Regions from separate parts of the Homo sapiens genome. Here all the other regions are reported to be linked to region 2. The links are microRNA targets in miRTarBase. Many come from high-throughput screens and were not tested one by one. Region 2 holds a microRNA gene; each other region holds the end of a gene's coding sequence.

Region 1 (3,000 bases), not on the chromosome of region 2:
GACATGGTAGATACTTTGAGTCCTTGCTCTCAGTCTGAGTGATGTAACTTTAAAGCTGTCATAAAATTAAATGTTTGTTTGTTTCTTTTTTTTTTTTTTTAAATAATTACCAGGGCAAGAGCACTTTGAACACAGCTGGGTTTTCTTCTTCACAAGCTCCCAATCCAGTAGATGATGAGTCATGGGATTAAAGCCAAAACATCCTTCAAGTCTGTGGTTTTGATGCAGAGAAGAAAATAGTTTTGATTTTTGAGTTTTTAACAGAAGTATAAAACTTAACATTCTCATAGCTCCTGTCCTTGTATTCTCACTCCTACACTTAAAAAAAAAATCCTTACTGACTAGTTATGTGAGATGCTAAAACTTACAACATTGCAGTTACTGATACAAATGGTGTTAACTGGGAATATTAAAGCATTCTAAATGTCTTTCTTATTTCTGGTATATTCTTTAGGGGGCTTAGACATGTTTAATGTTTAAATGCCAAGTCTTACTATAGTGTTTATTGATCTTATAAAACAAGCAAATAGGATATGATACACTTTTGGTTAAAAATTACTGGGTCTCATTTTTACTTGAGTCTTTAAAACAGTAGTGTGTCACTATAATGTGATAATCTTTAAGAGAAAGTAGAATACTTAAGCCTTTCAAAGTGATTTTGATTTTTAGATCATCAGATGTATGATGAAAATGGTTAAATGTTTGTGATGGGAGCTCTGTACTCAATGGCATAACAATGTTTATTTTTATAATATACAATCTTTCCTTGAAATAAAGGATGAAACACTTTTCCCTTAAGTTTTCCATCAGCACTTTAAATTTTTCTTTGTTGCATATCCTAGCCCAAACTCCTATATTTTTGAAACTGTTTTTTTGTGTCTTGCGTAACCAGTGCAGTGAACAAAGTCTTACATAAATTAAATATTAATGTATAAACATTACTGCACAGATGTGGCAATGAAAATCAATCTTAGAACTCAAACCCGTTTATCAACAAAAAACAATGCTGCTTACTCTTTCCATAAGTTTTTGATTCATATTTTAAGATTGATGAAAGAACCCTGTCTTTCTTCATTTTCCATTATATATCTTGAACTTACTATGCCTAGAATAATGAAGTTCTTTTTTTTTTTGAGACGGAGTCTTGCTCTTGTTGCTAAGGCTGGAGTGTAATGGCGTGATCTTGGCTCACTGCAACCTCTGCCTCCCGGGTTCAAGCAGTTCTCCTGCCTCAGCCTCTCCCGAGTAGCTGGGATTACAGACACGCGCCACAATGCCCAGCTAATTTTTAGTAGAGACGGGTTTCACTATGTTGGCCAGCCTGGTCTCGAACTCCTGACCTCGTGATCCGCCCGCCTCCACCTCTCAAAGTGCTGGGATTACACGCGTGAGCCACCGCACCCAGCCCGAAGTTATTAATTAATTGTTAAATGAACGAACCCAAATATTTAAGACCCAGTGAGGTGTAAATACTGGGGAGACAAAAATGATTGGTATTAAGTGTTACTGTTCACCTAAACAATCCAAAGTGACATGTCCCTGATGTATATCTTGTTATAGGAATTTAGTTAATAAATGAGGCATCACATATGAAAAAGGAAGGCATATCAACAGATAGTGTTAGAATAACTGGGTAGATGCCTACCTCATGCCATATTTAAAATTAACTTCATGTGAATTATAAAATATTAAAGCTAATAGTTAAATATTAACCCTTTGAAGGGTTGACTTTAAGCTAAGGAACAGAAATCAAAAAAGAAACAACAGATTTGATCACTCAAGGAAAGATTAGTTGCCTACATAAAAAATAGTGAAAAGTAGACAAGGAAAAATATTACTGTGACCACAGTGGTTATCAGTGTTCTTTATATGTGGATATACTAATAGAAGAATACAAAGAACATAGAAACTCAAAAAGGGCACCAGCATGGCACATGTATACATATGTAACAAACCTGCATGTTGTGCACATGTACTCTAGAACTTCGAGTATAATAATAAAAAGAAAAAATGTTGACAACAAGAAAAACTCAAAAAGGGAAGTTCAATTAATAAAAATATGGGACATATTTCACTTTTCTTCTGTTATCTCACTTCTGGGAAAGGCTAAATGAATGAAGGTGTTTGGATTGTTATTTGTAATATCTGTATGTCTTAATTTTCTAGTTTCGTTTAGGAAGAGTATAGGCCAGTCTTGTCTCATTTTTTTCATTGCTTTTTTTTTTTTTAACAGATTGCTCCCTCTGAACTGATTCCTTTTAAGCTTTTGCTTGATTTGTCAGATTACCATAGTAGCATTACTGAATCAAATATAAAAAAGGAAAGGAAATGTATCATACATCTACCACCATTACAGATGAACTGTAAATGTCCCTATGTTTAATTACTCTCCTCATTTCTAGGTATAGGTTTGAATCATCTCTTTAAAAATTATCAAAGTAACATGCATAAATTAGAAAAGAAAATGCCATAGAAGCATTTATAATAGAAAGCAATATTTTTCTGCCCCTCCCCTTCCAAATTGCCATTCCACATCCAACAATCAGCTATTATTAACAATTTCTGTTCACTGCCATCATATACAGGTTGAGTATCCCTTATCTGAAATGCTCGGGACCAGAAATGTTTCAGATATCAGATTTTTTTTTGGATTTTGGAATATTTGCATAATATATAATGAGAGATCTTGGAGATGGGACCCAAGCCTAAACATGAAATTCATTTGTTTCATTATACCTCATATACAACTTGAAGATAAGTTTTGATATTTTAAGTAATTTTGTGCATGAAACAAAGTTTGTGTACCTTGAGCTGTCTGAAAACTAAGGTGTCACTATCTTAGTCACATGTGGACAATCTGAGGCATCACATTGGTGCTCAAGGTTTCAGGTTTAGGAGCATTTGGGATTTTGAATTTTTGGATTAGGGATGCTCAACCTGTATTTTTATGTCACCAACCAGAACGTCTGTTGACTTTGATATATGAAGATTTAACTCACA
Region 2 (3,231 bases):
CCAGTTTAAGGGTTGGGTAGGGATCGACCAAGCAGCTCCTCTGATGTGGTTACGACTTTGCCGAACTCCTCAAGGGCGAGCTTCCCTCCCCATCTTTCTTTCAGTAATAGGAACATTACTCTGGAGAAAAAAAAAAAAAAAAAACATGAATGGGGTGAAATGGTAGGCTTGATCCAAAAGCAACGCCGAGAATCACCCTACGACTTCCGTCAGGTACTGAACTGAATATTAGGCAAAAATAGTAAATGCCGAAACCTAAATCACACACATCCAATTTTTTTTATTTTTTTTTTAATCTCCCCGGGTCTCAGGACTAAGCTTTCAAACAGAATTTAAAGAGTTAACGCTGGCCATAGCTCTTTGTTTTCCATGCTAACATTTGTGGCATTAGGACTATTTTGTTAACTAGGTATATGCAATTCACAGAATTTCACGGTAAATTCCCCAGACCAAATATTTGGCTGAACAAATAAACAACATTATCCATTCCTGAAAATAAGCCAGTAGGAGCGGGGAGGATGGAGGAAGGGGCTGGTTGCTAGAACTGGACAGCCACAGGGCTCAGTACTGGCCCTAGGATAATTTGTTCAAGTACTGGAGATCTACTGGTTCCTTTTCAATGACATCGACGTTTCAGAAAGTTGCTAGAAATTGGGCAAAACAAAATGAGGCTGCCTGAGGGCAATCTATAAGGGGCTTCCCTAAATGATTTATTTGAGCTCCATACCATTAATCAAAGGGGCAGCGACCTGGGGGGTTGGAGGGGTGGGGGAAGGATCCCTTTTTGCGGGGAGTTTTGGAGGAACTGTGTAGTCTTGCTGCCTTTGCCTGGGGCTCTGATGTCTTCTCTCCACCTGCGCTCTCCGGGGAGCTGGGGTTTTGGCAACCACCCCGCTTCAATTTTTATTGGTTTCCACTAAGCTGCTCCTTTTGGAGGAGTGTAGGACTTCAGTAATTAAAAACAAAAATGAATCCTGCTTCACCCACTCCACTCCCAGGAGCGTATGTAAGAAAGTGTGTACAAGAATGCAAGGGTGCACACCCCACCTAGAAAAATGCAAACGCCAGGAGTGTGCACCACACACATTCTTTGGGTGCACACACCACCAGCAACAGCAATACTACCGCTCATATCTACACCTTCATGATGGAGAAATGCGCTATCAGCCTTCCCCACAGAGAACATACAAAGACACTAAATGTTTCTGCTCCAAAGGGATCCAAAGGGATCTTGGTCTGTGCTGGCTCACTTCATATGTGTGAATTTTCTCAGCACACATATGAAATGAGCCAGCACAGACCAAGATTCAAGGCTTAATTTAGTTGTTGGTGGCAAGTAAGAAAAAGCAAAGGCCTCTCCTCTGCTCCTCTTAATCCCTACACCCGTCATTCCAGAAAGGCATTTATCTGCCTGCTGGGAGCCCTTAACTGAGGGTACATTAGCATCCTCCTTTTTATTAACTTTGTCCAAAAATTGAGCTTTTCCCTTTAAGAAACCCTAGCACAGAACATCAGATCTACCTCTTTCTGCCCAAGTCCAGGGAAGAGGGTGTGAGGGAGGCAGTACAGAGCGAAAAGGAGAGTTGACATTTGACTCGAGATTTCTGTATAATAGTGGGACACCTTCACAGTGCCTGCTTAGAAATTCTGACCCTTTAGTATCTGACCCCATTGTCAACCCCCACCCAGCCCAATCTGTTGGGATCCTAAACTTGATGAAGGCCTTCACATTGGGAAAAGAGGACAAGGGAAAAAGTCAAGAAACAATGGGAAATTCTATCAAGTGGCATATTAAAACAGTAGTCATCAAACTTTTTGAAGGTAGGGTACATTATTTGTTACAAAAAAAAAAAAAAAAGACAAAATAGCAGTGCATGCCTGTAATCCCAAAGAGGCCGAAATGAGAAGATTGCTTGAGCCCAGGAGTTCAAGACCAGCCTGGGGCAACAAAGAGAGAACTTGTTTCAAAAAAAAAAAAAGACAAAAGAAAAAACAAAAGAGTCCTACCTGGAGAAAAAAAAAATAAGTTTAAAAACATGCCTTCACACACACATTATGATGTTAGTGTACAAATTAGTTTTGATTTGGAAATATCACATTGGTACCTGTAATAACTGGAGATACCCTGAGGTATCATGAAAGCAGAGGTGGGTATCATTTTTCTAGGGTTGAGACCTCATCACGCTCAGCTGTGATACACCTCAACAGGTGAGTGAAACAGAAGATGTACAAGGGGCCTGAAATGAAGTCTTTAATCTGACCTACACTCCTTTCATCCCAGTGTTTCTCCAAGGCATGTGTCATCCAGATGGGAGAGGATACTGCATCCTTGTTAACATTAAATAGAAATAGAAAACAATTCATGCTGGCAATTACCATCTCTCTCTGCCAACAGTTTACTTCCTGTCCCTACAACTTAACCACCTCCAGGTACCACCTTTTGACTTCCATCCAGCCTCCAACTCACCTGAACAGAAAAAAGCCTCATTCAAAAGAGATGAGCCCGAAGGAAAAGAGAAAGGATTAAGGAGAAAAAAAAAATCATGATTTACCTTTAAAATAATGACTCATTTTATTTTTTTCTTTTAATACGTAGTTATAAATATATTTTGTCAAAATATATGATCAATATGGTCAAAACATTTGCACGTAAAGTCATAAATAAGGTCAAGGTGAATGTTTAGGGATTTTTTCCTTTTTTTTTTTTTTTTTTAAATAAAAGTCCAGCTATAAGGAAGCAGTCTGTGTAGTGTGTGGGTGAGTGGATGGGAACGTGTGTGTGTGGTGTATGTGGTGTGTGTGTGTGGTGTGTATATCTGTCTATCCTCAAGGACTGCCTGATCTCAGCGGCACCCACATCCCTCTACTACCATCTCCTGATAATTTTTCAGTACCACCTTATCATACTCATCCAGGTACAGCATGGAGATGGCACTCAGTTCAGTGGGCACACAACAGGCTTTGGGGATACTGGAATTGACAGAATTGACCAGGGTCTGCACAATGGCATGGTTGGTTGAGTTGAGGTGGTCAGCCAGTGGAAAGGGGCAGTCCCCATGGCAGTAGAAGGCCTGGTAGCCTGGTGGGGCCACAATCCAGTCATTCCAGCCCACATCGCTGAAGTCCACATAGAGCGAGTGGCGCCGGCAGTTCTTATTCTTCTTCCTGGCCCGCTGTGAGTGATGCTTAGGGCTACGCTTGGCCCTCCGGCGTCGGGTCAAGGCATGGCCC
Region 3 (3,231 bases), not on the chromosome of region 2:
AGCAGTCCTGAGCCTGCCTGTGGGACCCCGCGAGGCCCTGGCCCTCCCGATCCCCTTCTGCCCTCAGTGGCCCAGGCTGTGCAGCACTTACAAGTCCAGGAGCGCTACAAAGAGCAGGAGAAGGAAAAGCACCACGTGCACTTGGTGATGTACCGTCGCCTGGCACTGCTCCAGTGGATCCGGGGCCTGCAGCATCAGTTGATTGACCAGCAGGCCCGACTGCAGGAGAGCTTCGACACCATCCTAGACAACCGGAAGGAGCTTATTCGCTGTCTCCAGCAGAGGGCAGCACCATCCAGGCCCCAGGACCAGGCCTAAGGGTGTGCCTCCACAAGTGTGCAAGGGTATATGTATATATTTGCAGGCATGTGTGAGGCGCACTAGTAAGTACATAATTTGCTGGCATGATTGCAGGTAGGCATGAGTGTGTATGTGCTAACATGTAGGCTGGTGTGTGTAGGCATGTGTGAATAAGCATGTATAAATGAGCTTAAGTGTGCTGTGTGCACATGTGTACACACAGCTAATTTATCTGCAGACCTATATGTGAGCATGTAAGAGTGAACATATGTGTGTGTGTGTAGTATGTAAGAATGAGGAACTCGGTATGTGCATGTGTAGACAGGTACCCAGCAGTGTGTGTATATGCGCATGAGTGAGGATGTATAGGCAGAAGATGTGTGTGTCTATGAGTGAGTTTGAGTGTGCAGGCTTGTATTAGGTGTATGTGAGGAAGCCCTTGTGTGTGCAGGGGTGCACATGTTTGGCCACAGGCATGGGAGGTGTATGTTAGGAGCATGTGTGTTTGTAGGCAGACTCATGAGCAGGTGTGTGCAAATACATATCCAGCTGCACTGTGGGTGTCCACCCACACCTTGTGTTCCTCATGGCCTACCCCAGCCTTTCTTCTCCACTGGGTCCCACTGTTCCCTGGAGACAGAGGGCTAGCATGCTGTCATTTATCTGAAGGTTGTGGCTGACCCATTCTCCTGGGATTTCCCAGGCCACCTCTCCTTTCCCTTTCCCTCACTTAACCCAGACTTGCTCAGCTGAGGCTATTGTCCCTGATGTTGGCTTTACTTGTAGGAGGTTTAGTGGCTGCTCTGGCCTGCCATGGAATTTTGGCTGCAATTTTGGCAGTGTGTGGAGAACTGGTATCAGGAAAGGGAACCAGGAGTAGTGATGAAGATGATGGTGGGGATGGGGACAGAGGACATAGGGGACTGTCCCTCTTGAACTCTGCCTTTGGGCACATGGGAGATGGGGACAGGAAAGATGATAACAGTGGAACCCTGTGAAGAATAGGAGAATGGGAATTCTAAAATACCAGTTCCCAAACAAACCATCTCTCCATTGGAAAAGGAGCTGTTGCAAACCGTGTTCATTTAAGCTTCTGATGAAAAGCAATGTATGTTTATAAGCTTGCAAGTAACAGACAAGATGTTCCAAGGCCGATGAGGAAAATATCGCTTCCCTGTCTCTGCCTCTACCTTGCTGTGCCTCTCTGGCTTTAGCAGCATTGGATGTTGAATTGGTTTGGTTCATTTCTCTGAAGTCGGACTGTCAGGAGGAGCCAGAGGTTGGCTTTCTGGGATGTGAAGGGGACAGTGTCAGCCTAAGCCTCTGGAGATGCTTAGGATGCTGAATTTTAACCCCTTCTTTCACTGCATGGCCCTTCAAACAGGGATTGGCAGGCTCCGCGAGTTACAGAGTGGGTGAGTCTTGGAGAGAACCAACGACTAAGGTAGCTTAGCTCTCTGCTTTGTTCTTGGGAGCCAAGAGAATGCAAGATCCTGGTGGGTGAGCAGTGGTATGAAGAGGGGACACTGGTGGGTGAACAGTGGCATGGAAGTCACTGATGCAGCCTCTGGCCCTCAGTCTCCCTATCGGCAAAGTGGGGGGCTCTTCCTATCTCTAAAGAGTTTCATCCCTGACAGGTGGATGGGTGAAAGATCCAGAGAGTGGGGGTGAGGGGTGGGCCCTGAAGACTTTTTGTCTGTAGCTCTTGCATATTGAGTGTATAAACCCGGCTTCTGGACCAACCCAAGATGAATAAACTGGGGCAGAAAATTACATTTCTTGAGTATGTGTTTTTCTTCTACCTGTTGTCTGATGGCCTCTTTTTCATACCATCTGAGCTCCCCTTTTGAGTAGGGTCCTGGACTAGGAGCTAGGGAGGTGGTTTTGGGGAAAGACACTGAAGAATTTAGACTGCTGTGCCTGGCGATCCAATGGGGTGGAGAAGTCTCTCAGGGGCCATCCAGTGTGACAGGGGAGACTTGACTTCTACCCTGAGAGCCCCATATGGGATTGTCCTTGTCCTGTGTCACCTTTGGGCCTAAATGAATTGCGAGGGACACATACCATACACACTCGTACATACTCAACTGTACCCTGGGCAGGGCACGGTGGCTCACACCTGTAATCCTAGCACTTTGGGAGGCTGAGATGGGTGGATCACCTGAGGTCAGGAGTTCAAGACCAGCCTGGCCAACATGGTGCCTGTCTCTACTAAAAATACAAAAATTAGCCAGACGTGGGGACGGGTGCCTGTAATCCCAGCTACTCAGTAGGCTGAGGCAGGAGAGTCGCTTGAACCTGGGAGGCAGAGGTTGCAGTGGGCAGAGATCGTGCCACTGCATTCCAGTCCGGGCAACAAGAGGGAAACTCCATCTCAAAAAACCAAATAAAACAAAAAATAAAACACCAAGTACCCTGGTGTCATCACTTCCCTGAAGGGCGCTCTGACTATGACTATGATTTCGGGTCCTTAGATGGTTTTGACACACATGTAGTTATAATATACAGTCATCCTTTGTTATCTGAGGGGATTGGTTCCAGGATCCCCAGGGATACCAAAATTCACAAATCTGAAATACTGTATTTTATTTTTATTTGATTTGATTCTTTATTTTTGGAGACAGCGTCTCCAAGATACGCCCAAGCTAGAGCATAGTGGTGCAATCATAGCTCACTGTACCCTTGAACTTCTGGGCTCAAGTGATCCTCCCACCTTAGCCTCTGAGTAGCTGGGACTACAGGCACACACCACCACACCCAGCTAATTCTTAAGTTTTTTGTAGTGATGGCTTCTTGCTATATTGCCCAGGCTGGTCTCAAACTCCTGGCTTCAAGCCATCCTCCCACCTGAGCCTCCCAAAGTGCTGGGATTACAGGTGTGAGCCACTGCGCCTGGCCAACATTTTTATTTTATTTTATTTTATTTTATTA
Region 4 (3,231 bases), not on the chromosome of region 2:
CACTGAGACTGTGGCTGAAAGATTGCATCTGAGGAATGTTTTTCTTTTCTTTTCTTTTCTTTTTTCTTTGCACTCTTAGTAAAATCTGTGAGGAATATTTTTACTCCTATAATTCTTCTTTTGTGTTCTCCTCTGCCCTCTTCCCTTTTTACACGTTACCAACAAAATGGGCAATGAATTGGTAGTTTTAGCCTCTCAACCCAGACCCTCCTTATCCCCCGCAACCTCTATTCCCTCACCTCACTCTGGGTAAGTCTGGTTTGTGTACCTTTCCTTCCTCATTTCAGCACTTATTCCCTTTTACCTGCTCTTGGCAAAGGGTCAGAGCTGATGTTTTTGTTAATAGCCACAGTCACCTGCCAGACAGAAATGTTGCAGGGAGTCTAAAACCAATAACTTGTAACCTTGCCTAAATCAGGAAGGGTTGGGTTATAATAGAGGAATAAACAGAACACATTCTGAGTGACATGTGTCTTCTCTTTCTAGACGGGGAAATCCTTTACATTTATGCAAAGAGCGATTCAAGAAGATTCAGAAGCTCTGGCACCAACACAGTGTCACAGAGGAAATTGGACATGCACAGGAAGCCAATCAGACACTGGTTGGCATTGACTGGCAACATTTATAATTATTGCACCACCAAAAAACACAAACTTGGATTTTTTTAACCCAGTTGGCTTTTTAAGAAAGAAAGAAGTTCTGCTGAATTTGGAAATAAATTCTTTATTTAAACTTTCCTTCCCAGTTTTATAGTTTCTGGTTCTGAGGACTGATGAAAATCATCTTCCATCAGCAGATTTTCTTGCACTGTTTGCTGTGCCCCTCAAATATAATGTCTTGGGTTTTAAGATCGAGCAAGGAGCTTCTCTTCCTAGATTGGATCCCAGCCCCTTTGTGGGGGTCTGACTGCATAGTCCCAGCCATTATGTGATATTTCACGTTATTGATGATAGTGAACCGTGGGTCCGAAGCTGACTCAACGGAGGCAGGGAACAAAGTCTCTGTGGTCTGTTGGGTCATACTTCCTGGTTCCACTGAGTGGCCCAACACTGGGACTGGGTTGGTGTCCCCTCTGCTGACAGGACCCTACTCCTAGGAGCAAAGTGGTTGATTTTGAAGGCAGTGTTCCCTTCTCTCCATTGACTATGAGAGAGTTGGGGGACACACATGCAGAAGAAGCCCGTGGGGAGAAGGTGGATTCCTGGTGTGCTGGCTGGTTTTTCAGGGCTGTTAGAGGTTTTTTTTTTTTCTTTTTTTTTTTATGGCAAGACTTTTGGCTTTGAGAAAACTCACTTAGAGGGCTTTCCAAAAACTTAGGATGGTCTAAAAAATTAGGATATTCTTTTAGAATTAGGAAGAAAAATTAGGATATTCTAAAAGAATATGGATTAAAAATTTAGGATATTCTTTTAGATATCCTAATATCTAGATGAGAGGCCTTCCTTCATAAGATCTGGTTGTTTGGGCTGTGGTTGGCATAAGTGATATTTATTTTGGCCTCTGTCACATCCAGTTTCTTGAGCTTTTAAGGTAAGCTTCTTTTGGCTTTTTTTCAGATGTTCACCAAGCTTAAGTTTAAAATAATAGGTATTCTAAAAGAGTATCCTAATTTTCTTATCTGTATTCTTTTAGAATACCCTAATGTTTCAGACAGTGATATTCTCTTGTTATTTCTAAGGCTAAATTGGCAGAGTATATCATCTAAAGCCAAACACTGAAGAAGGTGAGAACCCACTCCCACCCAGCCAGCATTTCCTGGAACAGACAAGCTGCTGCTTCCTTGCTGGCTCACTTAGTGCATTCCTGGGATGGTCTGGCACCCAGGCTTTTTATTCTTTTTGATCATTGTTCTTACTGAGGTGCCTTCCTAGAACAAGAGCCACTTACAAAATAGCTTATAATTATTATGTACCACACAACTACTATTGTTTGATGTATGACTGCTGAGAGCTTGAATACATGCAGAGAGTGACTGAAGACTTAGTAGAGGAATAAATTCTGAGCCTGTCTAAGGTGGGGCTAAGGAACAGATGAGTAATAAGAGGCTCTTGGATTTTTTTAACCAATGCAACTGACCCTTTCAATCAGTTTTCTTTGAATTACATCTACAAGTTTTGTTCCACTCAGCTACCAGTCAACTAGGCATGCTCCACAGTATCACAGGAAGAAGGTCAGAAATCTGGAACTGAAGCTAAAAGAAGTGAGGATGTAGAAGCCACATTCCTCTCCAAGGTAGTGTGTGAAAGAACCGCCCCCTCTTGACAGGAGGATGACCGTCGCCATTCTTGCGTGGGACTGACTCACCCAGCTGAGAGGAGGACCAATAGAAAGAAAATTCACATTTGAGTCCACCTCTCTCCCCCTTTTTCTGGCCTTCATTCATAAGATCTGGTTGTTTGGGCTGTAGGTGGCATAATTCATGTTTATTTTGGCCTCTGTCACATCCAGTTTCTTTAGCTTTTAAGGTAAGCTTCTTTTGGCTTTTTTTCATATGTTCACCAAGCTAAAATTTAAAATAATAAGACCAGGTTTCTCTCTGTACAAGTGGATTATAAACATTTTCACCAAATCATAACAATACTCCAGCTTTCCGGTCCGACTTCCTAGGAGCCTGGAGTTAGCAAAGGTTGTCTCTGGATTTCATTCTCTGAGAATATCACAGAGCCTGGGAGAAGATGAATTTACATGAAATTGCAACATACACACCTTTTTATTTTCTGGTGTTAAGCTAGTTGTCTTTCCTACCTTACAAATCATGTTAGTTTTATGATTTGTTCCGCATGTTTTATGTTTATTGTAGAAATGTTTATATAACATACGCTTTCCATATCAGGGAAAATCATATCTGTTTAATAAATTGGCTATAACTTTAATATCTGTGGACAACTTGTAAAATTTGGAATGTATCATATGTAAAAAGTTTAAAGATATCCAAATAAATGCTTTAGGTGTTGGCATTACTTTTGGTTAGCATATATCTTTCTGTTTCATTTTACACATTTACCTGCCACAGCAAGGTGCCCGTGTCACCTTGCTACAAATATAGTGGGATATCTGTATTAGCTTTAAATTTAAGAGGGTTATATTATTATGGCCACTAGCCAAACTATCTTGACCTTCTCAGAGAAAGTGTGATCATCATTTCAGCTGATTAAGTTTCATATTCATTAGCCATGACAGCGTGTGACCTTTGTGGACCATTTTGGAACTCAAATCACTGGGAAACAGGGC

Evidence for each region. The annotated mature microRNA hsa-miR-5580-3p reads CACAUAUGAAGUGAGCCAGCAC and lies in region 2 at 1,239-1,260, opposite strand. An mRNA with a match to its seed (bases 2 to 7 or 8) in the 3' UTR can be bound and repressed. Matches are read on the target gene's strand: a 7mer-m8 pairs with bases 2 to 8, a 7mer-A1 pairs with bases 2 to 7 and ends in A, and an 8mer does both.
Region 1: the mRNA of DDX4 is a reported target of hsa-miR-5580-3p. The part of its 3' UTR that is shown has no 7-base or 8-base seed match.
Region 3: the mRNA of C1orf216 is a reported target of hsa-miR-5580-3p. Seed matches in the 3' UTR shown: 7mer-A1 at 347-353 and 7mer-m8 at 566-572.
Region 4: the mRNA of UBR2 is a reported target of hsa-miR-5580-3p. Seed matches in the 3' UTR shown: 7mer-m8 at 2,489-2,495 and 8mer at 2,908-2,915.

Annotation. Positions count from the first base shown.
Region 1 is chr5:55,816,350-55,819,349 of GRCh38, forward strand. It overlaps DDX4 (DEAD-box helicase 4), which reads left to right. Exons shown (of 22, transcript NM_024415.3): 22 at 114-808. The coding sequence ends at 191. Among named protein-coding and RNA genes, the nearest start is that of IL31RA, 34 kb to the right of the region's middle.
Region 2 is chr14:53,947,189-53,950,419 of GRCh38, forward strand. MIR5580 (microRNA 5580) reads right to left here and starts at 1,296; the gene lies at 1,239-1,296. BMP4 (bone morphogenetic protein 4) reads right to left here. Exons shown (of 4, transcript NM_001202.6): 4 at 2,548-3,231. The coding sequence ends at 2,844.
Region 3 is chr1:35,712,719-35,715,949 of GRCh38, reverse strand. It overlaps C1orf216 (chromosome 1 open reading frame 216), which reads left to right. Exons shown (of 2, transcript NM_152374.2): 2 at 1-2,073. The coding sequence ends at 318. Among named protein-coding and RNA genes, the nearest start is that of C1orf216, 4.6 kb to the left of the region's middle. RefSeq lists an enhancer at 148-442.
Region 4 is chr6:42,690,546-42,693,776 of GRCh38, forward strand. UBR2 (ubiquitin protein ligase E3 component n-recognin 2) reads left to right here. Exons shown (of 47, transcript NM_001363705.2): 47 at 487-2,960. The coding sequence ends at 628. Among named protein-coding and RNA genes, the nearest start is that of PRPH2, 30 kb to the right of the region's middle.